4 linked regions of the Homo sapiens genome follow. The protein of the gene in region 1 purifies or fractionates together with the protein of each later gene. This does not show direct contact. Each region holds a gene or a part of one and is shown on either strand. Other genes may lie near its edges. The genes, in order: PDE6D, RAB28, TBC1D10A and LMNB2.

Region 1 (7,024 bases):
CAAATTTATTTTATTTCATTTGTTTGAGACGGAGTCTTGGTCTGTTGCCCAAGTTGGAATGCAGTGGCGCAATCTTGGCTCACTGCAACCTCCGCCTCCCAGGTTCAAGCAATTCTCCTGCCTCAGCCTCCTGAGTAGCTGGGATTACAGGTGCATGCCACCATGCCCAGCTAATTTTTGTATTTTTAATAGAGATGGGGTTTCACCATGTTGGCCAAGCTGTTCTCAAACACCTGACCTCATGATCTGCCTGCCTCTGCCTCCCAAAGTGCTGGGATTACAGGCATGAGCCACCGTGCCTGGCCTCAAATTTATTAATATTTGCCATCTGGCTTTTGCATTTTGTATCTTGTTTAAAAAGATCTTTCTTATCCCAAGATTAACTAAATATCCTATCTTTTCTTCTCTTTTCAATGTTTAGCTCTTTAATCCACCTGGAACGTATTTACACATTTGGTATGTGGTAGACATCTAAGTACTTCTGCTGTTTGGATAGCCAATAGTTCCAGTACTATTTACTAAGTAGTTAGTCCATCTTTTCCTCACTGTTTTGAAATGCCATCCTTGTCATATACTAAATTTTCATAAGACATAGGTTTTTTTTTGGATTATTTCTGTTTCATTGATCTATTTGTCTCTTCTTGTACCTATACACATTTGATTGAATTATTATAGCTTTATAATATGATTTAGTATAGTTTACAATAGAATGGTCTGTGACTAACATAATATGTGTGTTTAAGGTCCCTACAAATATGTGCCCCTTTTGTTCACATGGAAGCTTGCCCATATGCCCATAGTAGATAGAAACATGAGGACTTGGCTGGGCATGGTGACTCACACCTGTAATCCCAGCACTTTGGGAGGCCTAGGTGGGAGGATTGCTCAAGGCCAGGAGTTCAAGACCAACCTGGCCAACATAGCGAGACCCCCAACTCTAAAAAAAAAAAATTTAAAGATACTGCATAAAAGTGAATACTGTATGCATAAATTAGGCATGGTCTGAGTGAATTCAGTAGAAGCTTTGTATTTGCCATCAGTTGTTTCAAAAACAAAATCTTATAAGATTTTATTCTTGTATCACCTTCACCCCATCTCACCCTACCTCTTTCAGAGTATCTGTTTTTGTGAGAAGAGTTTATCACTACAAAAAGAGCACCATTATGATCTCCTGCCAACAGTGTTGATAGTACTCAGTTTTCCACGTTGACTAGGTCAATCTTTTTTATTTTTGCCAGTTTGGACAACACATTGTTTCGATTTGTATTTTCCTGGATCCCTAGATCCATACAAGGTAATATAGCATAGTGGTTAAGAGCTATACTGGACTGTGGCGCTATACTACCTCTCAAGAAATGCAAGGCTCTCATACACATTAAGAACCTTGCATTTCTTTCTTGTTTGTTAAAAGCATAACATTTCCTAATTGTAAATTAATGTTATGAATGAAATGTTACTTGGGGAACAATATGATTCTCCTGCAAATATTTTGGATTTGATTATTTTAAGCAGCTGACATAGAGATTGATGTTTGTAAATCCCACGTTTCCCATTTCGTTCCTTCAACAAAGGTCTGTTGGGTGACTATTATGTATAGGGCACTCTACACTTGAAGGATACAAAAATGAATAACTTACAGTCCCTTCTTTCCAGAAGCTTAACCAGCTTTATGTCTGTTTAGAAGGAATATCTTCAAAAGCAATGCATTTTTTAAAATTCTATTTAATTTTCCTATTACAAACGCCAGCCACCTAGAGTGACCTTTGTAAATATTATTTAATATAGCCTTCTAATGTAGCTAATGTTTAATGTGTTTTTTATAAAAATGGAATTGTAAATATCACTTTGTAACTTACTTTGTTCACTTAATAATAGATTTACCATGTTTATGATTTCCAAAGATAGTTACTTTCAGTTGCTTTCACTGACAGATTTGTCACAGTACTCTTTTTTTTTTTTTTTTTTTTTTGAGACGGAGTCTTGCTCTTGTCACCCCGGCTGGAGTGCAGTGATGTGATCTCAACTCACTGCAACCTCTACCTCCGGAGTTCAAGCGATTCTCCTGCCTCAGCCTCCCAAGTAGCTGGGATTACAGGCACCTGCCACCACGCCCGGCTAATTTTTGTATTTTTAGTAGAGAGGGGGTTTCGCCATGTTGGCCAGGCTGGTCTCGAACTCCTGACCTCAGGCCTCCCAAAGTGCTGGGATTACAGGCGTGAGCCACTGCACCTAGCATTTGTCACAGTACTCTTATACTAGCTTTCTAGTATAGTCTGTATCTACTGTTTTGCCTATTTGAATAGCTTTTTCATCAACATAAAAATATAACTTTATTAAATTAACAAGAAACTGACAGACTTCCATAAGAATGAATTATGCTTTTATGATTTCATTATCTTTAATCCATCTGAATTTTCTTTGGTATAAGATACAGAGTAGTAATGTAGCTTTTTTTTAATATTGGCTTATTGTCTCCATTTATTTATTTAATTCATTTATACGTCAGATATTATAATATCCAGAATATAAATGGCTGCCTACAAATCAATAGGATAAGCATTTAACTCAAAGTGGACAAAGGATATGAACAAGCAGTTCCTAGAAGAAAAAGCAGATGACCAATGAATAAATGAGGACATGCTCAACCTTGTTAAAATAATAGACTATCTTCCGGGTGCAGGGGCTCATGCCTGTAATCCCAGCACTTTGGGAGGCCAAGGTGGGTGGATTGCTTGAGCCTAGAAGTTTGAGACCAGCCTAGGCAACATGGCAAGACCCCGCCTCTACAAAAAAAAAAAAAAAACACACACAAAAATTAGCCAGGTGTGGTGGTGCATGCTTGTGGTCCCAGCTACTGGGAGGCTGAGGTGAGGGGATCACCTGAGCCTGGGAGGTGGAGGTCGCAGTGAGCCAAGACTGTGCCCCACTGCATTCCAACCAGGGTAACAGAGTGAGACCCTGTCAATAATAATAATAATGGACTATCTCTTCCCAATTAATTGACACAGATTTAAAAGATTGATAATATATATGTATATCCTGAAAGTGGCACTGTACGAAAATAAAATTAAAAATTAGGCCAGGCACAGTGGTTCACGCCTGTAATCCCAACACTTTGGGAGACCAAGGTGGGCAGATCACTTGAGGCCAAGAGTTTGAGACCAGCCTGCCCAACATAGCAAAACTCCCTCTCTATTAAAAATACAAAAAATTAGCCAAACTTGGTGGCACACGCCTGTAATCCCAGCTGCTCAAGAGGCAGAGGCAGGACAATTGCTTGAACCCAGGAGGCAGAGGTTGCAGTGAGCTGAGATCACACCACTGCACTCCAGCCTGGGCTACAGAGTGAGACTCTGTCTCAAAAAAAATAAAAATAAAAATTTATTAAAAAAAAAAAAGATGCCAGGCACAGTGGCTCATGCCTGTAATGCCAGCACTTTGGGAGGCCAAGGTGGGCGGATTACTTGAGGTCAGGGATTCGAGGCCAGCCTGGCCAACATGGTGAAACCCCGTCTCTACTAAAAATACAAAAATTAGCTGGGCATGGTGTGGACAGCTGTAATCCCAGCTATTATTAGGGTGCCTGAGGCAGAAGAATCACTTGAACCTGGGAGGCCAAGGTTGCAATGAGCCGAGATTGCACCACTGCACTCCAGCCTGGGTGACAGAGAGAGACTCAGTCTCAAAAAAAAAAAAAGATAATATTCAGTGTTCACAACATTGAGGGAAAGGGGCACTCTCATTTGGTTTATGTGTGTGTGTGTAGTGTCTGTAGAAAGTAATTGGTATCTATCAAATGTTTACACATTACTGCAGTAGAGTATATAGCACAGTGGTTGAGAGTATGGGCTCACTTCCAAGGTTTAGACTTACTGCCTCTGCTATTGTGACTCTCAACAGAACACTCAGACTCTGAGCCTCAGCATCTGTATCTCATATTATCAGAGGGTTGTTTTGAGAATTAAATGAAACTGCATAAAAGATGTTTGGTTCAGGGCCTGGCATATAGTAATATCTGCTGCCATTCATTTTATTAATAATTACTAATAATAATGACAGGCCAGGTATAGTGGTTCATGCCTGTAATCCCAGCTCTTTGGGAGGCCGAGGTGGGTGGATCACCTGAGTTTGGGCATTCAAGACCAGCCTGGCCAACATGGTGAAATCCCGTCTCTACTAAAAATACAAAATTAGTCAGGCGTAGTGGTGTGCACCTGTAATCCCAGCTACTCGGGAGGCTGAGGCAGGAGAATTGCTTGAACCCAGGAGGTGGAGGTTGCAGTGAGCCGAGATCACGCCAGTGCACTCCAGCCTGGGTAACAGAGTGAGACTCCATCTCAATAATAATAATAATAATAATGACAATAGTGTTAATATGATTGTAAAGCTACTTATTTCTCTGAGATATAACTAATGCCTTCATTCTAGTTATATTTTCTTACTGAAAAACTATCGTATTTCCATTTTGCCTCTGAATAAATGATTCAATAAGCATTGATATATACCTCATGTTTATCTTGTCTAGAAAATGAATCTCATTCTAATTTATGGCAGGTTAGCAAAAAGAGTTTGGGCTCAGAAGGTTTCTGAAAGCATCTTTCACTTGTTTTCTTACATTTCTTCTCCCATAGTTTGGTCCTGGAATCCCTGTATCTTCTTTCTCATAGTACCTTAATCCTTGACTTTGCTTCCAATCAAAAAACAGTTGGCTTTACATCTTCTATTTACTCACTTAGAATAAAGAATAAGAATAGTAGACATATTAAGAAAAGTCGACTGTAGAACTTCTCTTGAAAGTCAGTATTCCCTGGTACAGTTGCCTTGGCCAAATGTTAAAAATGAATTTGAGGTTTATTATTTCCCATAATATAGGTTTTGTCTGACAACCCAAAGTCTTGGAAAGCAACCAGACATACCACTCATAAAGCCCAGTTTCATGTAGATTGTGATTGGTAGCTTGTTTCCTCATGCATGGACTCTTGAGAGTTTGTATTGTTATCCTGAATGGATTAAATGAATATAATGTCCTATTGATTATCTTAGGATTCTTTTTTTCTTTTCTGCGACAGGGTCTCATTGTCATCCAGGCTGGTGCTATCATAGCTTACTGCAGCCTTGACCTCCCAGGCTCAGATGATCCTCTGCCTCACCCTCCTGAGTGCCTGGGTGCACAGGTGTGCACCACTATACCCAGCTAATTTTCGTATTTTTTCTTTGTAGAGAAACGGTTTCACTATGTTGCCCAGGCTGGTCTTGAACTTCTGGGCTCAAGTGATTTGCCCACCTTGGCTTCCCAAAGTGCTAGGATTACAGACGTGAGCCACCACGCCCGGCCTTACTTAGGATTCTTAAACAGGCATTCCTGCTTTTGTTTTTTGGAAGGAATTTAGTGTATAATTAGATATTTATAGTCTTCTACTGACTTTCTAAGTTTCTTGCCAGGGTTGTGTATATGGTTTATAATGAAACATTACAGTAACTTCTGGAGAAATGGGACAGAACACGGTAAAACTGTCATGGAGAATTCCAGTTGTATCACCACTACATTTGATAAAGGACTAGCAATGGTTCTGAGGCTTGGAAGCTCTAGGTTCTTACTAGGGTTGACCTCAGTTTTGCCTCCCAGGCCTCACTTGTCAGCATTCTGCATCCACAAATCCTCGTGTTATGAGAGGATTTGACTTATAGACCTATCCCTCTCTATTCCTGAGCTAAAGCCTAGCATCATAGGAAGGAATTTTAAGGCCATCTTCTCCAGCAGCCTGACTATTCTAATAATTGCTTGAATGCGTAAAACTCAAATTGTCAAAGTTCTGAGAGCAGCATTCTTTTTTGCTTTTGACCTGCTTATAATTTTGGAGCTGGGAAGAAAAGCAAATATATTTCTTACAGTCCAATATCCACAAAGATTTCAATGGATTGGACTAAAGCTTACTGTTTATGGCAAAGAAGGCGATGGTCTCACCGTAGGACACATGAAAGCTTGTTTAGTCTACTGCAAAGGGAGGCAGGGGAAAGTGGAGCTGGTATAAAGGTGGGCCACTTGAAACATGGCATACATTCAATAATGGGGGAACTGAAGGGAGTTTAACCTAAAGATGAAAAGAGTTGGACAAGAGATATGAGTATTCTCTTCTAAAGTTAAAAAAAAAAAACAACTGTTCTAAAGAGGAAGAATTAAATGTTGCTGTGTAGCTCTCAGAGGAAGTACAAGATTTGCGGGGTAGAAATTACAGGTGACAGAGTTTAGGCCAGTTTCTAACAATTAGTAGAATTACCTGAAAAAAGACATTTTCCAGAAAGTGTTTTAAGCAGCAGATAGATGCCTGTCTGTCAAGAGTGTTGCAGAGGGAAATTTTGTATGTATCAAATGTGTATTACAGTAGATGATCTACAGAAATACTCAAATCCTTTTCCAGCACTACAATTCTTTGATTTGGTGACAGCCTTTCTTACTTAACAAGTACTTTTTTTGGCAAATGTTTATATTGAGATATGTTCTACACCTAAAATCGGCAAAAAGTTTTTTTGTGACCCAATTGTTTCCTTTTTGTTTCTGACACAACTCTGAGACACTCAGTATTGAAGTGTTTGGTTTAGTGCATTGTGGATACAACTGATTCAGAGTCAAGGAGAGCAATTATTGCCTCTGAATTTAGATAACATTTAGAGAATGAAACATAAATAGCTGTAATATAAATTAGCACTGTAAATATAGCCACAAGAAGAAACAGCATGGTCTAGTAATATCTCATAATTCTATACTGCTTTTCGGTTTTTAAAGAACTTTGATATATTACTGCATTATCACAACAACCCTATTCATTGTTATCCTCACTTTATAGACTAAGGAATTGAGGATCGACGAGGCAGTCACTTAGACGAAGGCAGAACCTTAATTTAAGCCTTGTTTTGTCTTTTTAAAAGTCCATGTTTTCTACAGTATACCATGATGCCTCTCTGGAGAATTTATTCTTTTGTTGTTGTATTATTAATTTTGAGTTTTAAATTTTTCTCAGCTTGG
Region 2 (7,477 bases), on another chromosome or scaffold:
ATCTCCCGATGTCTTGAGATAAAAATTGAACAGAGAATCAACTGAATCAGTGGGGGTCACTTTCTCTTCACTTATCTAGACTGCATGCTATCTTTCACATTCAATAATTTCTCAAGTCACTGTATAAATACCCTTCTTAATTACAGGTATTAAGTGAACAACTAGCTCCCATATCAGAAATATTTTTATCTGAATCTTTATATTTTTTGATTTGGAAAATTTCTACTAACATTTTTGACTTGGTAAATTTCTACTAACATTTTTTAACCATGCTACATTTACAAACACTGAAAAGACAGAAAAAAAAAGAATATTTTGCCTCAAAAAGCTCTTAAGAGACTATGTAATAAAAGAAAAAATATGAATCAGAAAAGGAAAGAAATAGAAACACGTGATACTGGAAGGAGGAGCTAAATTTCTCTTGGAGAAACTGTTAGTCATCATCTCAATACTCTATTGCATCTGTCAGTGTGTTGAAAAATGCTCAGAGTTAGATTGAGCAGGAAAAACAAATGCCAGGAAAAAAGAGCCAAGAGTTAAATCAGGATACAAGTAAGAATGAAAGAGAGGCTGAGTTCACAAAGAAAAGAACAATAAAGGAAAAAGAATGGGAATGTTGGTGGCTGCCAAGTATTTGAGAACTGAATAGGGTATGGAGAAAAAAATTCTTGATTTAAGAATAATGAAAGAAGGTTAGGTGTCAGATGTTTGTGTCTGGAAGTTCCTGTTAGAAAAAGCTGTTACAGTTTTAAAATAAGTTATTTAGTCAAGATAATGAAGATTAAGTCAGAGCACCATAAAAAATATTAACTGTTATCCTTTGAAGCAGAATGATAATACTAATTCAAAAACATGGAAGTGAAAAAATTATCCTGTCCTATACAAGAAAAAATTTTAAACAGAGATAAAAAACCATAATTATTCACACTAAATTAGCAACAAAGAGGAAACATGTATGATAGGCTAAATAAAAAACTCAGACGCAAAATTATGAACAAATTTCACTAAGTAATATATGTACAATAAATACTGTTAGAAAAATGAACAACAGTTTAAAGAATTATGATAGCATATAGGATAACCAGCAATTTTTGTGTCTTTTTACAAATGTATTGTTATGAGTTGTCATTATCATTTTAAATGGGAAATAAGATCAGTTATGAATTGAATACAGTAAAATTTAAGAGCCAAAACCTTAGACGGCCTTCAAAAGAAAATCTAAATGATGAGAAAACTATAAAAATCTAACAAACTTTTTATTGAATAAAGGTGTTAGAAACAATGATTTATTTATAGCAATTCATTCATTCGAAAAGTTTACTAAGTATACAAAAATTAATATACTTTATAAAGAAAAGTTACCCCAAGTTCCTTTCTTCCCCCAACGTTTAAAGGTAATCAGAGCATATTGTTTTCCTCAGCTTTAAAAATCTGTAACAAAGGATCCAAGAAGACAAGAAAGAAACAAAAAAATACTTCAAATTTTGCATATAAAATTTTACATCTTTCCCAGGTGACCTCGAAACTCAAATGTCAGAACCAAAGGCAGAAGCAGGTATCTGGGCAGTGCCAACTGTCAGGGAGGATGCAAAGAGAAGTCGTCACCAGAGAAACCAGGGTCCGAAATGCAACCAGCAACAGGGAAATGTGAAGCCTTAAACAGGAAATAAAAGCCTGGGTTTCTTTAGACTATGGTTGGGATAAGGAAGGGGAGTACAGGGGTGATAAACTTTAGCAATATTCCCAGAAAGTGTTGGCGCCTTTGACAGAAGCATGGGAAAGAAGGCATCCGGGTAGAGGCTCTTCACTATTTGCTGGTGGAGGGATCATAGACCCCTCTGAGATCTTATGGACCCTCTCCCCAGAGCACGTACCGGGCAGTATTTACTCCATTTCAGGAGTTCCACAGCCTTGGGGTAGGAGCCCCTGCCTAGGAGATAATAAGACTGACGCTGCCTGATATTCTCACGCCCGCATTCATTCATTCGAACAGGGGATCCCTTTTGTCACGCAAGCAGCTCTACCCTCAGCATCCTACCCGTAACAGGAGCTCCATAAACACTTGTTGACTGACTGCTTGTATCGAGTGCTGAGCTGGAAACAGAGGTGATGAACAGGTATGATATTAAAATAGCAACTAGAGTGTACTGAGTGGACACTGTGCTCTAAAGGTTTTATGTGTATTTTCACATTTAATATGTATTTTCACATTTCTCCCTTTGCGGCGGCCCTTTTCAATACCCATCTTACAGATGAAGCTTAAACTGATTAGCAATTTGCCCTCCAATGACCCGACGACTAAGTGGCAGAGCCCCAATTCTCACCCGGGGAATACTGATTCCAGAGCTACGCTCCTGGGAGCTCACGATGCAGTAGAAGCATCAGAAACGGTAAAGGGGGTGGGAGGGGAGGAGTAAGTGTGACCCAGACTACAAGTAAGAGGAGCTAAGATGCCTTGGCAAATCCCTGCCAGTCCTGAGAGGCGGGAAGCTGAAAGGCTGGCCCGAGTCTTGCAGGAGTTCGCAATCCAGGCGGGGAGTTAGGAAGTGACTCTTTTTTAAGGGGGAGCTGGACAGCTCTCGTCGGCCTTCACCAAGCGCCCACTTCGTGTCCGGCCTCAGGCCACACAACCAGAAGGGCCCGGGCCTAGAAGCCCGAGGGCTCGGGGTAACGAGGCGACGCCGGGCGGCGGGGAGGAGGCCGGGGACCGCCGGGGTTCCTGCAGGCCTGGGACGGCGGGCCTGCTCGAGGACTGACCTTCCCGGAGGCGCCGTCCCCCAGCACGACGATTTTCAGTTGCCGGTCCTGGCTCTCCTCCTCAGAGTCCGACATGGTGTCCCGGGAACCAGGCCCGCCCCTCGAGGTGGGGGGGGAAGGGAAGGATGAAGGCTCCGGGGGCGGGGGAGAGGAGGAAGGGAGGTAGTTGCGGCAGGACCCCCGCCCCGGTGTCTCCGCGCCGGCAGGAGGTATTCGAGGAGAATCACTCGGCAAGCGCCATCTTGCCCACCTCCCCGCCCTCTGCGCGCGGCCCCGCCCCCTACGCGCACGTCGGGCGCGCGCCCCCGCCTCAGAGCCAACCCGCGCCGACCGGCGGCCCCGCCTGACGAGCCGAACCACTCGCGGCCCTGGACTGGTGTGGGGGACATTCCGGCGGGAGAGGCGAGGCGCTGCGTTTCCCTTCAGGAGACAGTTGGCTAGAAGAAGAAAAGAAGTGTTCGTTCAAATTAAGGAGAGAAAACGGGAGCAGAGCAGCTTTCAGGCGTTCCATCAAATTCCCTTTTCTCCTTCCCTCTTGAGAAAGTCTCTGAAGGGAATGGTTCAGCCTGACGGGGTGGAGCAGTGACGCCCGGGCTACGCGCCAGGGTTGCCTGGCAGCCAGGAGTTCGAGGACCGGCGGCGGGGCGGGGCCTGTCTCCGGGCACCCGGGACGCCCGTAGCCTGGCGGAGAGCGCCAGAGAGGGCCCCTGAAAAACCGGACCAGGGAAGAGGGTACCTCGGGGCGGATGAGGGGACAGCTGCTAAGGGCCGAGGCTGCTGGGAAGCCTCAGTAGCGGCCGTGAATACAGTGGAGCTCCGGCGCTGCTTATTTCGGCCTAACTCTTGGTTTCCTCATCTGAACAACCCCAGGCTCCCATGGTTCGTTCATCAGACGCTACTGATCGCCAACCTCCTGGCACCCCATCTTTACCCTAAGGCAGCAGTTCTCATAAAGTGTGGTCTAGGGACCTCTGGAAATCCCGATGACCTCAGAACAATTTTCATAATAATACGGACACCTTGTCTGTCTTTCTCACGTTCCTTCTCTCACTAGTATACCGTTTCCTGGAGGATACGCTTTGTGTACGACGTCATCACTGGCAGCTAAGGGAGCTTGCGTTTGTTGTTTTTAAACATTTCTCAGTTTTCATTTCAATGCAGTAGTGATAGGTGTAACCCACATAAACATAAGCTCTTTGGAGGTCACAGTAATTCTTTAACATTATAGAGAGGCCCTGAGTCCAAAAAATTTAAGAACTGCTGCCCTGGATAATCTCAGTCCAGGAGCGTTAGGTAAACGGCATAAATGAAATTTACAATTTAGTGAGGTAAATTCAAAAATAATAATGCTGTCCTGCTATGGTTGTTTCATTGTTAATCACTTAAAATTTATTGTTACCTTTACTACTATTAGGAATTATGAAGTATAATTATCCCCATTTTGCAGATGAAGTATCTTAAGTTAACAAAATGCTTAGCCCAGAGGCAGTAGTCTTGGAGACCATATGGGCATTAGAACAGGAAAGCAGAACAGTGTAAAGAAATGCCCAGACCTAGAGGCATCACTGGAGTTTAATCTCATGTTTACTAGATATGTGTCCTCGAGCCTCAGTTAGTTCACCTGTAGAACAGACTACTGCCTTTGTGTAGGTTTGAAAATTAAATGAAATAATCGGCATAAAGTAGATAGCACAATGCCTGGTGTGTAGTAAGCACTCAATATTAACCAGTGTAACTATCACCCTCATCATCATCATAATTAGATGATGGTCCGTGTTGGAAGTGTCACTACTTTCTAGCCAATTTACCTTATACAAGTTTCTTATGTAGAGCCTCAGTCTCTTCATCTGCAGAGAGGGCTGGCCCACAATTATAGGTACCCAGTTAAGTATTAGTACCCAATTCTTTCCCCAATCCCGCACCACCATTGCCACCACCAATTTTCTATTCACCAGATTTATTCATAAGAATTAGAAGAAAGAGGATATGTACTTGTTAGTGAGAAGAATCTACTTCCAGTGAGGACAGACTTAACCACTTCTTGTCCATGAGGGCAGTTAAAATGCAAGAAAATTTCTTTTCCAGTCTTCCTTAGATAGCTATGTGATCCACCGGACTAATGAGACAGAAGACAGTGTCCTTTGGAAGACATTTGTAAAAGAACCCTCCCCCCACCATTTAAAAAAAAGGAAAAGAAAAAAGGAGAGTTACAGGGGAGTCCTCCTCCTCCCTTCCTTTGCTGTCATTATTAGGTAAGAACAGGATTTTTGGAACTACTACACTTTGTTCACTCTATCTTCTCGGTTTCTTGTTATGGGAAATAATAATATGGTACTTTGGCGATGAATTGTGTTACCTACAAACAAAAAAATTCCAACTGACATAACTACTTCGGCCAAAAACTAGATTTAGCTGAACTCATAGGCCTGATTTTCATATGTGGTTTTATATGAAGGGAAATCTAGAAGAAAGCTTCTCATTTTCCACTCATCAATTTCTGAGATGACTGCTTTGATTGAGAGACAACATTCATTTGGATATGGGTACATCAATAGGATAGTGTTATATAAAACAAAAAGTTGCACTATTTTAGGGATCATATTTTACACATATGGCAAGTTTCTGGGTTAAAAGTTAGAATTTAAAGACTTAGAGCCATTTTTATAAAGAAAAAGAAAAAAAAACTTTCTATGTGAGGAGGACCATTTTAGCATTGAGAGCTTCCAGTATGATACTCTGACATACTAAAGAAACATAGAGCTGATCCACCAAAAAGAATATATCTTTGTGGATTCTCATGTACAATGCTCTTAACAGGGTCAAAAATTAGAGGAATGGTCTTCAGTCATTTTAAAACTAATAGACAAAAGGTTTATAAGAATTCTAGACATTGTATAAAATATCTTTTATAGCATCTCTAACAGATAATTATTCAAACCTTATTTGAATACGTCCACATTCAAGGAGTTTCTTCCTTTATGAAGCAACCTGGCCTGTAGATGGATAGGCCTGGTTATTAAAATATTATCTCTGATGATGAGCCAAAGCTTATCACTATAAATTACAGCTAATGATAATAGGTATGTCTTTCTCAATAAAACGAAAACTCCCCATTCCACAGGAAGATGATCAAAGTGATTCATTAATACTTAGTGACTGCTAGACATGGTGGCTTATACCTGTGATCCCAGCACTTTGGGAGGCCGAGGCAGGAGGGTTACGTGAGCCCAGGAGTTCATGACCAGCCTGGGCAACATAGGGAGATCCTGTCTCTAAAAGAACTTTAAAAAACAAAAATTACCCAGCCAAGCATTGTGGTAGGCGCCTGTGGTCCCAGCTACTTGGAAGGCTGAGATAGGAAGATCACTTGAGCCTGGGAGGTCAAGGCTACAGTGAGCAGTGATCATGCCGCTGCACTCCAGCATGGATGACACAATGAGACCCTGTCTCCAAAAATAAACAAACAAACAAAACTTCATTAAATTTACAAATATTTAGTGACTGCCTACTGTGTACCAGGCATTCTTGTTCACAACTCCTCGAAACACTGAAAACACATAAGTGAAAAAAAACATACAAAAGCTCTGTTCCCATGGAATTTACATTCTGGTAGAGGGATATGTAGGCTGAATAATAGCCACATGAAGATATCAGGTCCTAATCCTTGGAAACTGTAAATGTTACCTTATTTGGAAAAGCATCTTTCAGGTGTGATTAAGTTAAGGATTTTGAGATGGGAAGATTATCCAGGATTATTTGGTGGGCCCTCAATGCAATCACATGTATCCTTATAAGAGAGAAGGCAATATAACCACAGAGACAGAGACTGGAATGATGCAGCCACTAGCCAACGAGTGCTGGCAGCCACTAGCAGCTGGAAGAGGCAAAAAACAAATTATCCTCAGGCTTCTGGAGGTAGCCCAGCCCTGCTGACACTTTGATTTCAGTGCAGTGACACTGATTTAGGACTTATGACCTCAAGATCTGTGAGAGAATACATTTATGTTCTTTTAAGTTACCAAGTTTATGGTAATTTTTTACAATAGCCATAGATAACTAATATAAGGATGAACACAGATATTTAGTAAATCATCAAGACAGTTTCATATTCTGGTACATTAAAAAGATAGTAAAACAGGTGACAGATGAAATAGAGTAAAAATATCTTAACATTATTATTCATCAATAATGAAGGTGGGAAAATGGTAAACGAATCAAGGAAGGAACTAATTTCAGAAACTACCAGTCTCTGACATCTTCTCAACAAATCCAATGTCATCCATCAGTTTTCATCTTTTTGCACTATTTCACAATTTTGAAGATGTAGATCCTAGGACTAATGTCTGAGTAAGGCTAAATACTGGCCATGCTTCCAGGTTGTACACTTGGTATTTCTGTATTTGTATAGTTCTGCTGAAAAACTAAGAAAAATACAGAACTAATCCCTAGAATTAATTGGTTTGTTAAACTCCTTGAGGACAAAATTTTAAAAAATAAGGCTTTCTTCCTAAAATTCTGTTCTCCCATGGGTTGTATGCACATCTACATAGATATACATGTGCATGTTGTATGTTTAACCACCATCTGAATCAAGACATAGAACAATTCAGAATCCCAGCAGACTCCCTCATGCCACCTCTCGGTTATTACCTCCTCAATGATTACTATTATGATCTCTAGTCCTGTACATTAGTTTTACCAGCTTGTAAACGTCATACAA
Region 3 (7,263 bases), on another chromosome or scaffold:
ACAGAGCAAGACTCCGTCTCAAAAAAAAAAAAAAAAAAAAAAAGGGCATCTGGACTTTTGCTCATGGCCAGTGCTCACAGGTTTCCTGAGCACATGCCAACTGCACATTCCAGGATCCAGGAGAGGGGCCTATGTGAGATCCTCAAGCCCAGCTGTTGGGAATGACCCCAGCAGGATGAGACTCTGGGATATCAACACATTCTATCTTCAAAAGAATGTCTCCAACAGCCAGTTCACCAGGATGTTCCACAGCATTGCCTAAGGCCTCTTAAATTCTTTATTCCAGTGAACCACGTGATTCTGCAGGGCTCCTTTCTGATCATTTATTCATTGGTTCACTGTTGCCCTTGCTTTCTCACTCCAATCTAACAACACAGCCTCCTTCTCCTTCAAGGGGAAAATCATCTGCTGCCATGCTTGTACACTATTCTCAGTCCTGCAGAAGGGGTCCCTCATTTTCAGCCCATACCACCTCCCCAACACCTACTCCAGCATTCTCCATACCTTACCTGGCTTTATTTTCTTATTCTCACTACCTGATAGATGTTCTGTGCTTGTTCATGTTGTCCCTCCTCCACTGGACTATAAACTCTATTGGGCCAGGACTTCATCTCTCTTATTCACTAGAGCAAGCTCGTCCAACCCATGGCCCAGGAGAGCTTTGAATGTGGCCCAACACAAATTTGTAAACTTTCTCTTTTTTTTTTTTAGACAGAGTCTTGCTCTTTCGCCCAGGCTGGAGTGCAGTGGCGCCATCTCGGCTCACTGCAAGCTCCACCTCCCGGGTTCACGCCATTCTCCTGCCTCAGCCTCCCGAGTAGCTGGGACTACAGGCTCCTGCCACCACGCCCGGCTAATTTTTTGTATTTTTAGTAGAGACGGGGTTTCACCGTGTTAGCCAGGATGGTCTCGATCTCCTGACCTCATGATCCGCCCTCCTCGGCCTCCCAAAGTGCTGGGATTATAGGCATGAGCCGCGCCCGGCCCCAAATTTGTAAACTTCCTTAAAACATTATGAGATTTTTTTTTGCAATGTTTTTTAACTCATCAGCTATATCGTTAGTGTATTTTATGTATGGCCTAAGACAATTCTTCTTCCGGTGTGGCCCAGGGAAGCCGAAAGGTTGGACACCCCTGCACTAATGTCTGGCTCATTATAGGTGTATTAAATAAAGAACTCTGGAGTTTGGCCAGGCATGGAGGCTCACGCCTGTAATCCCAACAATTTGGGAGGCCAAGGCGGGAAGATCACTTGAGCCCAGGAGTTCAAGACCATCCTAGGCCACATAGTAAGACCTAATCTCTACAAAAAAATACAAAAGTTAGCAATTTCACACAAGGACACCCAGTTGTTGAGGGGCACAGCCACGAAGTGAAGTCTCCCAAGCCACGTGCCATAGGTTAAATTGGGCAAACTCCCCCGCTGCAGCCACAGGCTGTGATGGGGAACACTCAAGACAATAATGAATTTGCAATTCCTTTTGCAAGCTTCAAATGCCACCACTCCTGGCCATTATTTATTTATTTATTTATTTATTTATTTTGAGATGGAGTCTTGTCTGTCACCCAGGCTGGAGTGGTGTGATCTCTGCTCACTGCAACCTCTGCCTCCCAGGTTCCAGCGATTCTCCTGCCTCAGCCTCCTGAGTAGCTGTGATTACAGGCGCCTGCCACCACGCCCAGCTAATTTTTGAATTTTTAATAGAGACGGGGTTTCACCACGTTGGCCAGGCTGGTCTCGAACTCCTGATCTCAAGTGATCCACCCACCTCAGCCTCTCAAAGTGCTGGGATTACAGGCATGAGCCACCGCGCCCAGCTCCTGGCCATTATTTACTGGGCTTCTCCATGTGCCAGGTGTTTAGCGCATACTGTCACACTAAAGTCTCAGCACAATTCTTCCAAGGAAGAATTTTTTCAGAATTTCCAATTTATAGATGAGGAAATGGGCTCAGAGAGAAGTAATTTGCTCAAGGTCACAGAGCATAAATTCAAATCCTGGTGGTTTGATTAAAGAAAATTAGAAGCTGAAGCATCACTGGAGTAACATCTATACAGTCTCCTAAAGATGAACACTCAGGGTCTCTAATCTACCCCCTCCCCAAATATCCCTGGGGTGAACGTCTCTATATTTGTGCCCTCACAGAGCTGAGTAAGAACATGTTTGGGATATAACCCTAGGGATAGAATCATGAAGTCAAAGGGTCGTGGATACTTTTCTTTGCTGTACTTGAGGCTTCACATCTGCCCCAGGTATGTCTGGCTCCTCCCCCTCCCTTTCCTGGGATAGGCCCATACCACCATGAAAGACCCATACCGCCCCTCCTGGGAGCTGGGACCAGGAGCCCACCACTGTCTGGAGTCACTGAAGAGAAGGAACATCCTCCTAGACTGAGGGTTTAAGACCAAAATAGCCTGTGCCCACTCCCATGTCTGTTCTTGCCTTGTTTATGGAAAGCCAGAAGCTCATGGAATGTGAGGATTGTACAATGACGCCATCAAGAATGTCCAGGCCACATGGCATCAAGGTGAAATCACTCAAGGCTCAAGACCCCCTCTTGGGGCTTGCCTTGGGGCCCTGAATAGTCTGTCCCAGGCCCTGCAGCCAGGTCTGAGTCTTCCAGTCCCTTCCCCTCTCTAGGCCTGTCTCTCCCACAGGTCTGCAGGGAGTGTCAGATGACAATATACTGTGACTTGTAAACCATAAAGTACTAGACATAAGCGAGGAGCTATCATTATATTATAGATCCAAGAGTTGACAATCTCTAGGGTCAGAAATCAGCTGCTTGGGGCTAAGCCCATATAGATAAAATCGGCCCATCCCTCCAAATATAGGCAGTTGGTAAGAGCTAAGTTCGAATCCTGGCTATATTCACAGCTAATTCTGGGACCTTAGGCAACTGACTTTACCTCAGTCTCCTTAACTGTAAAATGGGACTAATAATGGTGTATACCTCATTGCTAAGAGATTACAAGACATGTTGCAACCAATTTGGAAAACAGTTTGCCAGTTCCTCGAAAGGTTAAACAGTTGCCATATGACCCAGCAATTCCACTCTTCCTTATCTATCCAAGAGAAATGTAAACATAAGGCCCCCACACAAAAGCTTGTACCTGAATGGTCAGAGCAGCATTATTCATAATGGCTAAAAACTAGAAACACGCGAATGACCATCACTGATGAATGGAAAAACAAAATCTGGTATAGTCCCAGCTCCCAGGAGGGGCAGTATAGGTCTTTCATGGCGGTGTGGGCCTATCCCAGGAAAGGGAGGGGTGGAGTCAGACATACCTGGGGCAGATGTGAATCCAGAAGCACTGATACATGCTACAATGTGGATGAAACTTGAAAATGTTCAAGAGAAAGAATCCAGACATAAAAGGCCATATATTGTATAATTCCATTTATATGAAATATCCAGAAAAGGGACATCTATAGAAACAGGAAGCAGATTAGTGGTTGCCAGGGACTGGGGGAGCCAGGATGCGGAGTGACTGCTAATTGGTAGGAGTTTCTTTTTGGGGTGATGAAAATGTTCTAAAATTAGAATGTTGTGATGGCTGCACAACTCTGTAAATATGCTAAAAATCATTGTACACTTTAAACGTGAATTTATGGTATGTTTATGTTCCATAAAACTGCTGGGGAAAAGACTACAGGAGAAAGTAGGTAGAGCTTCGGGCGTGCGTGGCTCAGTAAACGCTGGTGATTATTAATAATTAGGTCTCACGAGGTAATTTAAAGCCCCAGAAGCAGTGAGTGCAATGGGACTGCCAGACTTCTGGCTCAGGCTGGGCCTTTAAGCCGCTCTGCGTCCCTGAACTCACTTGGGCCTCCTCAGAGTTCCTCATAAATGAATGGGGCAAACAATCCCTACCACGTCCTTGGGGTCTCGCAGGGAGCGGGGCTCAGGAGGCAGATGAGGAATCCATGGAGGAAGCCCTGGGCCTCCGGCTCGCGCTCTGCAGTAGGTGACAGGCCCCGCTTGGAGCCAACCCGGAAAGGCCCGAGCTCGTCCAGGTGAGTTCTTGTGATTGGCAGCCCGGAGGAGGGCGGGGAGGGCTGCGGTGACGGCTGCCCCGCCCCCTCACTTCGGGCTTGTTGGCGCCCGCCGGGGGAGGGTGGGCGGGGCCCGGGGTCCGCGGCGCCCATTGGGCGTGGGGGGAGAGCTCCGGGGTGGGCCTGGAGCCCCGCCCCCCGGCCTTGCGGCGGCCAATAGGCGCCGCGCGTGGGCGGGGCGTCGGCGGCAGCAGGGCGGCTGAGGTGGCCGCTGGAGCTCAGGCGGCGGGCGCGGCTGGGATGGCGAAGAGCAACGGAGAGAATGGGCCGCGCGCGCCCGCGGCCGGGGAAAGCCTGTCGGGAACCCGGGAGAGCCTGGCCCAGGGCCCCGACGCCGCAACCACCGACGAACTCAGCTCTCTCGGGTCTGACTCGGAGGCCAACGGCTTCGCCGAGCGCCGCATCGACAAGTTCGGCTTCATCGTGGGCTCGCAGGGCGCCGAGGGCGCGTGAGTAGCGCCGGGGGTCGGGACTGAGCGCGCCACCCACGCGAGGGGCCTCGACACGGACGGAGGCGCCCTCGGGACTTGCCGACACGTCCCCCTCCCAGGCAGGGACCACTAATCCCCGTTCCCTCCCCTGCCCCACCCCCACCACCCCTGCCTTCCTAGACCCGCCCCCTTCGCAGTCCTACTTCCGACCCAGGGGGCGGACGGGCCCACACCTCCACCCGCCACCTCCACCCTCCGGACAGACTGACCCGCTCCCAGGAAGGACCGACTGTGCCCTCCTTCCAGCCGTGGAACAGAATGACAGACTGCCCCAAACCCACCCCTGCCGCCAAGACCTTAGGGATGATTGTTTCTGCCACCCCGACAGGCTCCCAGATGGCTGGCGCCCCCCTCCATAGACACTCATTCTCCATCTTTCCCCCTCCCACAAACCCACAGACGCCCTTGTCTCCCCGCCTCACTGCCCCCACACCAGGAGACCTCAGACCGACTTCAGGACTGACTGCCCCGCCCCCACCCCTTCCCAGGACAGACTGACCCTTTCCTCGAGGCATACAGACCTCTGGATGGACAGACATTGGTCACCTCCCTCCCCTCAGCTCCATCCTGGGACAGACAGTCCCTTCTCCTCATGGAAGGGTCGGAGAAGGGCCCCCTATCCGCTCATACACAGCTTCCTCCACTGGCACTGGCAACAGGTGGGCAGGTACTCCCCCTTCCCAGCACGTACAGGGCGACAGGGAGCCCCACCACTAGGACAGACCATCAGCTCCAGCAGCCACAGGAGCCAGTAGATGGGCTCTGTGTATGTCCTGTGTATGTATGCGCCTCCTCCCAAGGGCAGATCTTGGGCGTGGGACGGGGGCAGGCAGGGAGACAGCAGGGTCCCTGCTCATATTAGCACCCCCCGATGTCCTATCCCGAGAGCACCCAGACACCCAGCTAGCAGACAGAGAAATGTGGGGCAGTGGAACAGCACCTTGCCTCCAAGCTGGGCCCCATGTTGCCCCACAGAATCCCCCGAGCCCAGGCCTCAGAGATCATGTGTACAGGCTGGCGGTCCCCTTAGGAAAGATGGACTCCATACCCCACTCCCATCCCAGCTGTCCTGTCACGTGAGACCAGTGTTGTGCACAGAACTGACAAGACTCCCTCCTGATGTGTGCTTTCCATCCCAATCACCAGTAGGAGCTCCTGGGGCCCTGCCATGACCCTACTCCAGAGAATATCCTTTCTCCCTTTCTCTGACCAATTGAGATTGTCCAAGGTCACCCCAGACTCTCTCATGACTTATGGAAGCGCTTTAACTGTCTAAGAACCCCTGTCACTTCCGGGATTTTCCCCAGCCCTAAAGCCTCTTATTCACCAGGCCTCCTTCTTCCTTGGAGAAATCCAGGCCCCTCCCCTAAGGGGAGTTCCCTCTCACCCACTGGATCTGTCTCCTCCAGTATCTCCCTACTGGCTCACAGCAGGCTAGGTTTAGTCCAGGACTCAGAGAGAGCACCCCTCATTCTGAACCCTCACCCTGACTGATGCTTTGTCACAGTTCCCCAGGGATTCACTTGTGAGAACTTAGTGGGGACCTGGAGTGTTTTGAATTGAGGAGCAGTCACCTGGGATTAGGACCCAGGGAGGTGTGTGGTCTTGAGATCTAGGAAAGGAGTTCCCAGTTGCATTTATGGGACCTTGGAAGGAAGAGCTCAGATTTGTGGGAGAATGCTAGGGCATGAGAGTTCCTACTACATGCTTATCAGGCAATCAACCAGATCTTGGGGTGCAGAGCAATGTGATATATTAGGAAAAGGCCAAACTTAGGAATTACACTTGCTAGCTTTGTGACCTTGGGCAAGATCCTGAATCTCTGAGCCTGTTTACTCACTGTAAAGGGCGACAGTAACACCCACTTCCCAACATTACTCTGGGGGTTAAATGAGTATATGATACGTGAAGGTGCCTGGCACAGCGCTTGTCACAAGTAGCGGCCCAGAAAATGTTAGTTTTCTTTCTTTCCTTCTAAGGGTCTGAGAAATGAAGAGAAAAATGAGGGCATATCTCTGGTATTTGTGGGCAGAGTGAGGCCCCAGTGGAAGCACCTCCCTTTGGCTGTAGTCCCCAACCAGGCAGCCAGACATCTGTCTTTCTTACCCCACAACCACAAACCCGGGATGTGGCTCTGCAGACACCCTCTACATGGCTGCTGTCTGTAGGGCTGGGGCTGAGGTGGGATCCCAGCTCCAGTCCTCTCTCCTTCCCTCACTTTCTGGAGCCTGTCAGTCAACCTAAAATCTCTGGTATCTGAAAGCTTCGATGTTCCCTACTTAATTTATATTGTGGTTTCAAAAAAGCCAAGAGTAAGTCCCTGCCCAAGGCCATAGAGGGGAAGTTATGGAAAGCTTCAGGGTGACCGCCCTGAACCCAGTCTCGTGGTTGAAGGCTAGGAGTCCATGTTCTATGCTAGAGAAGTGAAACGTTAGCCCTCATGGGTACTGTGGAGATGGTGGGGACTCTGACTCCAGATTAAAGGTCCATTTCAGCTACCCTGGGCCAAAGGTTGTCTTAAGACATTTTGGATGTGGAAGTTGCCAGGCCTGGGGGTAAGAAAGCAGGTCACAGGCTACCTTACTGAGGTGACTATTAGCTACATGGCATGAGTAGATTAAAAAAACCATAGACTGCACTGTAAGGGATCTTTTTTTTTTGAGACGGAGTCTCGCTCTGTCACCCAGGCTGGAGTGCAGTGGCGCAGTCTCAA
Region 4 (7,024 bases), on another chromosome or scaffold:
TTACCCCCATGCCCCGGTCTTTCCGGTCACCTTGTCCCCTGCCTCGCATTGGCCGGCGGCCCCGTCACCCTGACCCTGATCACCCCCATCAGCTGGGTCACCCCGTTACCCCCATGCCCCGGTCATTCCAGTCACCTTGTCCCCTGCCTCGCATTGGCCGGCGGCCCCGTCACCCTGATCCTGGTCACCCCCATCAGCTGGGTCACCCCGTTACCCCCATGCCCCGGTCTTTCCGGTCACCTTGTCCCCTGCCTCGTATTGGCCGGCGGCCCCGTCACCCTGACCCTGATCACCCCCATCAGCTGGGTCACCCCGTTACCCCCATGCCCCGGTCATTCCGGTCACCTTGTCCCCTGCCTCGTATTGGCCGGCGGCCCCGTCACCCTGACCCTGATCACCCCCATCAGCTGGGTCACCCCGTTACCCCCATGCCCCAGTCATTCCGGTCACCTTGTCCCCTGCCTCGCATTGGCCGACAGCCCCGTCACCCTGACCCTGGTCACCCCCATCAGCTGGGTCACCCCGTTACCCCCATGCCCCGGTCATTCCGGTCACCTTGTCCCCTGCCTCGCATTGGCCGACGGCCCCGTCACCCTGACCCTGGTCACCCCCATCAGCTGGGTCACCCCGTTACCCCCATGCCCCGGTCATTCCGGTCACCTTGTCCCCTGCCTCGTATTGGCCGGCGGCCCCGTCACCCTGACCCTGATCACCCCCATCAGCTGGGTCACCCCGTTACCCCCATGCCCCGGTCATTCCGGTCACCTTGTCCCCTGCCTCGCATTGGCCGGCAGCCCCGTCACCCTGACCCTGGTCACCCCCATCAGCTGGGTCACCCCGTTACCCCCATGCCCCGGTCTTTCCGGTCACCTTGTCCGAGTTGTTCTTGAGCTGCACAAACTTGCCCTCCAGGTCGATCTCCTCGATGCTGACGCTACCCGAGGCCGAGGCCTGCTGGGCCAGGTGGAAGCCACCGCTGCCACCCGTGCCCGTGCCCAGGACGCTTGGGCCGCTGCCCAAGGGCTCCTCCACCTCCAGCCGCTTCCGCTTACTGCGGCCCAGGCGCCCGGTGGCGGACAAGCTGCCGCTGCTGCTCGAGGTGGCTCGTGAGACGGTGACGCGCGAGGATGGGCTGGGGGACAGCTTCAGCCTGTGGGGAAGGCAAGGAAGGTGGGACTGGTAGTGGGAGCCCCAGACAGCCCAGGGCACGCAGAGTGGCGGCCACGGCCCGGCCCCACCTCCACCCCTGCCCAGCACTCCCCGCAGCCCCGTCCCGCCTCTCCTCCTGCCCTGCCCCTCCTCCTCACTCTGTGCTCCCAAGCCTCCTGGCCTGCCGCACCTCTCCTCCTCGCCCTCCAGGAGCTTCCGGTAGGCGTTGATCTCCATGTCCAGGGCCAGCTTCACGTCCAGCAGCTCCTGGTACTCGGCCAGCTGCTGCTGCATCACGTCCCGCATCTCCGTCATCTCCTGCTCCTTGGCGTCCAGCATCTTCCGGAACTTGTCCCGCTCCCCGGCCATGGCCTCCTCCAGCTCCCGAATGCGATCTTCAGCGGCACTGGCCTGCGGAGGGGGCGGGTGGCGAAGGTCAGGGCAGCCCATGGGTCACAAGGCCCAGGTGATCCTGGGACTGCGGGAGATGGGCCCTCACCACAGACTGGGGCAGAGACCAGGCCTGGGCATGGGGCGCACGGGAGGGGAGGGAAGGGGCATCGCTGGGCGCCCCGAGGGCTGCATCCGATGCCAAGAGGCCAGAGCCCCACGCCCCGCACATCCAGGGCAGGGCCCAGAAGTTGGGCCAGGGGGACGGCAGACGGTGGCGCTGTGCTCATCACCTGCTTCTGGAGGCCGGAGAGCTGGTAGCTGAGGGACTCCAGGCGCATGCGGGCCTCCTTCAGCTCCTCGCGAGCCGCACTGGCCGCCTTGTCGTTCTGGTCAGAGCTCAGCTTGGCGCTGTCCAGCTGTGGGGAGACGGGCGGGTGAGTGCGGGCGCGGGGCGGGGCGGGGTTCCCACCGGCCGCCCCCGCCCACCCGCCTGCCGGCCACACCTTGGCCTGGTAGGTCTGCTCCAGCTCCAGCTTGTAGAGCCGCACTTGCTCGTCGTGCTGGCTCCGCAGCTCCTCCAGCGCCTGTGCCATCTTGAAGTCGTACTCCTGCTGCCGGCTGCTGTCCACCTCCACCAGGCGCCGCTCGTGCCGCCGCCGCGTCTCCCGCACCTCCTGCGGACCAAGGCTTCGTGACCCTCTGGTCCCGCCTGGGCCCCAAGCACCAGGCCCAAGGGAGGGCTCAAAAATGTGCCAAGAGGAACCTCCAGGCAATTCCTGGTTCCTTGTGCACAAGTTACAAACCGATACACGTGCAGGTGAGAGGCGACCCAGGGGCCGTCCACGCGCTAGAACGTGACTCAGCCACGAAAAGGAGCGAGGCTCTGACACCGCCACAGCATGGATGCACCTTGAGGACGTCACACTCAATGAGAGACGCCAGACACAAAAGGCCACACGGTGCGTGATCCCATTTCCATGAAATGTCCTGAAATGTCCAGGACAGGCCCATCCACAGAGACAGGGAGGGGATGCGTGGGGGCCAGGGCTGGGGACTGCTGATGGGGAGGGGGTTCTTTTTGGGTGATGGAATGTTCTAGAATTAGAGGTGGTGGTTGCACAACCCTGTGGAGATCCTGCCAATGCTGAACTGTACACTTTAAAAAGGTGGACTTAAAATAGCCAGGTGTGGTGGCGGGCACCTGTGGTCCCAGCTACTCAGGAGGCTGAGACAAGAGAATCGCTTGACCTTGGGAGGTTGCAGTGAGCCAGGATCGCACCATTGCACTCCAACCTGGGTAACAAAGTGAGACTGCGTCTCAAAAAAAAAAAAAGTGACTCTCTCTTATAAAAGCCATTATTGAAGAAAGCGGGCCAGGCGTGGTGGCTCATGCCTGTAATCCCAGCACTTTGGGAGGCTGAGGCAGGCAGATCACGAGGTCAGGAGTTCGAGACCAGCCTAGCCAACATGGTGAAACCCCATCTCTATTAAAAATACAAAAATTAGGCCGGGCACAGTGGCTCAAGCCTGTAATCCCAGCACTTTGGGAGGCTAAGACAGGTGGATCATGAGGTCAGAAGTTCAAGACCAGCCTGACAAACATGGTGAAAACCCCGTCTGTACTAAAAATACAAAAATTAGTCGGGTTGGTGGCACCCGCCTATAATCCCAGCTACTCAGGAGGCTGAGGCAGGAGAATCGCTTGAACCCAGGAGGCGGAGGTTGCAGTGAGCTGAGATCATGCCACCGTACTCCAGCCTGGGTGACAGAGCAAGACTCCGTCTCAAAAGAAAAAAATTAGCTGGGTGTGGTGCTGTGCACCTATAATCCCAGCTACTCGGGAGGCTGGGCCCAGTGTGGGCAACAGAGCAAGACTCCATCTCAAAAACAAAACAAAACAAAACAAAACAAAACAAAAACAGTAGAAACGCTTCTGAAGGAAGCTGGCCACCTTTGCAGTCAGCAAGGCGGGTAGCCCAGGCAAGCAGAGCCCTGCGGGCCGCGCACCCACCTCCACGGCCGCCCTCCCGCCTCCACGGCCGCGCACCCGCCTGCACAGCCGCCCTCCCGCCTTCACGGCTGCGCACCCACCTCCACGGCCGCTCACCCACCTGCACTGCCGCCCTCCCACCCCCACAGCCGCGCACCCACCTCCACGGCCGCCCTCTCGCCTCCACGGCCACCCTCCCGCCACCACGGCCGCGCACCCACCTCCACGGCCGCCCTCCCGCCACCACAGCCGCGCACCCACCTCCACGGCCGCCCTTCCGCCCCCACGGCCGCCCTCTCCAGGACTCCGCACCCTGTGGGCTGCACAGGCCTGCATCATCAAGCTCCCTACCGCAGCTCCCTGTGAGGGCCCCTCCAGGGCCTCTTCCCGGCCCCTGCACCGCCTTCGTGGGTCTTTTCCCAGGTGCCCTGTGGGTTCCACCTGGGGCACGTTCCTGGGCCCCCGCACAGAAGCTCTCGTGAGTCTCTTCACGGGCTGTCTCACAGGTTTCCCCACAGGCCCCTTCACAACTGCCCTGGCGGCCTCCCCTCTGGCTCCTGTGGGGCCCCCCCCACTCCCTGGGCCTGGCCAGAGCGGGGCGCAGCTCCTGAGCGGCCTGGACATCCCTCCACCAGCAGCCAGCAGCTCTCCCTGGGCAGGGAGTGTGGGCCCGGCCGGCCCCGGCATTCCACCCTGCACTGTGACAGCACAATTGGTTCTAAAGGACACAGGCTGACGCCTTTCCTCCCCACTCCCCTCTCCGAGCCCCCGGAGGCAGAGGCCCCAGGTGAGGGGCTGCAGGTCAGGGAAGGAGGCTGGGTGGGGAGAGCGGGCCTCACCCTCGCTTTGGACAAGGAGGCCCTGTGGGAGGCTGGACGGTGGCACCCAGAAGATGCACCTGACGCCTGCCTCATGGTCTAGCAGTTAGGATCCCAGGCGGCCAGGGTTCAGCTCTCAGGGTGGGAACACCAAGCTTTTAGAAAGGCAAGAAATCAAAATAGACCTTCCTTGACACTGAAGAGATATGTTTTGGCTGGGCATGGTGACTCACGCCTGGAATCCCAGCAGTTTGGGAGGCCGAGGCGGATGAAGCACCTGAGGTCAGGAGTTCGAGACCAGCCTGGCCAACGTGGTGAAACCTCGTCTCTACTAAAAATACATAAATTACCTGGGCATGGTGGTGCACGCCTATAATCCAGCTACTCGGGAGGCTGAGGCAGGAGAATTGCTTGAACCTGGGAGGCGGAGGTTGCAGTGAGCCAAGATCGTGCCACCGCACTCCAGCATGGGTGACAGAGTGAAACTCCATCTCAAAAAAAGACGTGCCCACATCCCGATCCCCAGCAGCTGTGAATGGACCTTATTTGGAAATGGGGTCTCTGCAGATGCCATTAGGTCACTCTGGATGATCCAGGCAGGCCCCAAATCCAATGACAAGTGTCCTTGTAGGATACACAGAGTATGGACACAGGGGAGGCAGCCGCGGGAAGACAGAGGCAGACACTGGGGAGACGCAGCCGAAGCCAAGGGCACCCTAAGAGGCAGGAAGGAGCCTCCCTAGAGCCGTGGGAGGGACCCCGGCCACACGGTGCCCTCAGGCTTCCGCCCTCCACAGCCATGAGGGTGGACTTTGCGTTTCCGCTGTGCCAGGCTGGAGGCCAGGCCACTCACTCACCTCCTCGAACACACTCTTCCGGAAGTCCAGCTCCTCCTGCAGGCTCTGGCAGCGGTTCTCCAGGTCCACACGCATCAGCGTCTCCTTCTCCAGCTGCTTTTTGGCCACTGCATGACCGTCCTCGGCCTGGGAGACACAGGACAGCGAGCTGGTGTGACAATCTGTCTGTTGCATATACCCTGCTGGGGCGTCCCGTGGCTCCTGGCACCTACCTTGGCCAGCTGGGCCCGCAGCTCAGCCACGTCACTCTCCAGGCCGCGCTTGTCGCTGAGGGCAGCTGCCAGCTCCACCTCGCTCCGGTGGAACAGGGACTCCAGGTCCTTCACACGGCCCTGGGCCACCGTAAGCTCGCCCTCCCTCTTCTTGGCGCTGAAAGTCAAGAGGGCAAGTGAGTGGGGAGGGGCAAGGTCCATGGGGCCACAGGGAGCACCTCAGGGGGCGTCAGGCAAGCCCAAAGACAAGGTCACCGAGGCCTCCGAGCCCCAGACCTTCCCGTCCTGCAGACGACGCGGCCCCACGCGCCCAGGCAAAGGCACACGTGCCCTCATCATCTGCCCTGCACTGTCAGGAGTCCAGCAAGTGACAGGCACCAGCGCTTGGGACCACCCTGGAGGCATGGGCTTTCCCAGCCTCTCCTGCCTGTTCTGGACCCAGGACGACCATTTGGGGAGAAATTAATGCATCCTCTGTAAATGTTACAAAGACCCTGGCCTTTGAAGGGTCAGCCTTGTTTGTAAACTTAAGCTGTCTGAAGCAGGCTCACCTGGTTTTCCACTAAACCAAATTAGCTCCAACATTAGATATTTAAGATAGCAAATACTCAGGCTTTTTAAACACACAAATACTACCAGTGTGGATTGTAGGCACTTAAGCTTTTTTTTTTTTTTTTTTTTTTTTTTTTTTAAGAGACAGGGGTTCACTTGTTTGCACAGGCTGGTCTCGAACTCCTGGGCTCAAGGAATCCTCCTGTCTCAGCCTCCCAAAGTGCTGGGATTACAGGTGCGAGCCACCGCGTACGGCTGACTCTTAAATGTTTTTAAGCATAATTATAAGTCTTGGAGCTGAATTTTACCCCCTCCCGACAGGGAACTAACTATATCCTCCCAAGAAACAGTGAGGACACCCAGGGTTCCGCAGCGTCACAACTGCTGACATCTGGGGTGGTCTTGAGTGAGGGCACCCAGGGTTCTGCAGCGTCACAACTGCTGACATTTGGGGTGGTCGAGTGAGGACATCCAGGGTTCCGCAGCGTCACAACTGCTGACATTTGGGGTGGTCCTAGGCACTGCAGGGTGCTGAGCACTGTCCCTGGCCTCCACCCACTTCAGACCAGGAGCTTCTTGCTGCCCAGTTTTGACAACCACAAGTGTCCCCAGGAATCACCCAGTGTCCCCTGGGGACAGAATCACCCCAGGATGGGGACAACTGGGTGTATCTGGAATAACACAGCCAAGGCTGCTGGCTGGACATTCAAAGAACATCCACATCCAGGCGGCTCGAGCCCGTGGCCAGAGGTCAGAAGTGACAGGGACCTCTCCTGCCCAGCAGAATGCACTCCCGACTCTCCCTAGAGCCTTTTTTTTTTTTTGAGTTGGAGTTTCGCTCTTGTTGCCCAGGCTGGATTGCAATGGCGTGATCTCGGCTCACTGCAACCTCCGCCTCCCGGGTTCAAACAATTCTCCTGCCTCAGCCTCCTGTGTAGCTGGGATTACAGGCATGCGCCACCAGCGTCCGCTAATTTTTTATTTTTAGTAGAGATGGGGTTTCTCCATGTTGGCCAGGCTGGTCTCGAACTCCCAACCTCAGGTGATCTGCCC

Evidence for each region.
Region 2: the proteins of PDE6D (region 1) and RAB28 purify together in Homo sapiens (affinity purification with mass spectrometry; 3 studies listed by BioGRID and IntAct, with this or other methods). This does not show direct contact.
Region 3: the proteins of PDE6D (region 1) and TBC1D10A purify together in Homo sapiens (affinity purification with mass spectrometry; 2 studies listed by BioGRID and IntAct, with this or other methods). This does not show direct contact.
Region 4: the proteins of PDE6D (region 1) and LMNB2 purify together in Homo sapiens (affinity purification with mass spectrometry; 2 studies listed by BioGRID and IntAct, with this or other methods). This does not show direct contact.

Annotation. Positions count from the first base shown.
Region 1 is NC_000002.12:231,771,267-231,778,290, reverse strand, and holds part of PDE6D (retinal rod rhodopsin-sensitive cGMP 3',5'-cyclic phosphodiesterase subunit delta), read left to right. Parts: intron 1-7,024. UniProt on the Homo sapiens protein: Promotes the release of prenylated target proteins from cellular membranes. Modulates the activity of prenylated or palmitoylated Ras family members by regulating their subcellular location.
Region 2 is NC_000004.12:13,481,319-13,488,795, forward strand, and holds the start of RAB28 (ras-related protein Rab-28), read right to left. Parts: upstream 3,023-7,477; 5' UTR 2,833-3,022; coding exon 2,758-2,832; intron 1-2,757.
Region 3 is NC_000022.11:30,323,918-30,331,180, reverse strand, and holds the start of TBC1D10A (TBC1 domain family member 10A), read left to right. Parts: upstream 1-4,239; 5' UTR 4,240-4,299; coding exon 4,300-4,508; intron 4,509-7,263.
Region 4 is NC_000019.10:2,432,956-2,439,979, forward strand, and holds part of LMNB2 (lamin-B2), read right to left. Parts: intron 5,577-7,024; coding exon 5,420-5,576; intron 5,334-5,419; coding exon 5,208-5,333; intron 2,217-5,207; coding exon 2,046-2,216; exon of another isoform or gene 1,959-2,045; coding exon 1,833-1,958; intron 1,561-1,832; coding exon 1,340-1,560; intron 1,151-1,339; coding exon 871-1,150; intron 1-870. UniProt on the Homo sapiens protein: Lamins are intermediate filament proteins that assemble into a filamentous meshwork, and which constitute the major components of the nuclear lamina, a fibrous layer on the nucleoplasmic side of the inner nuclear membrane.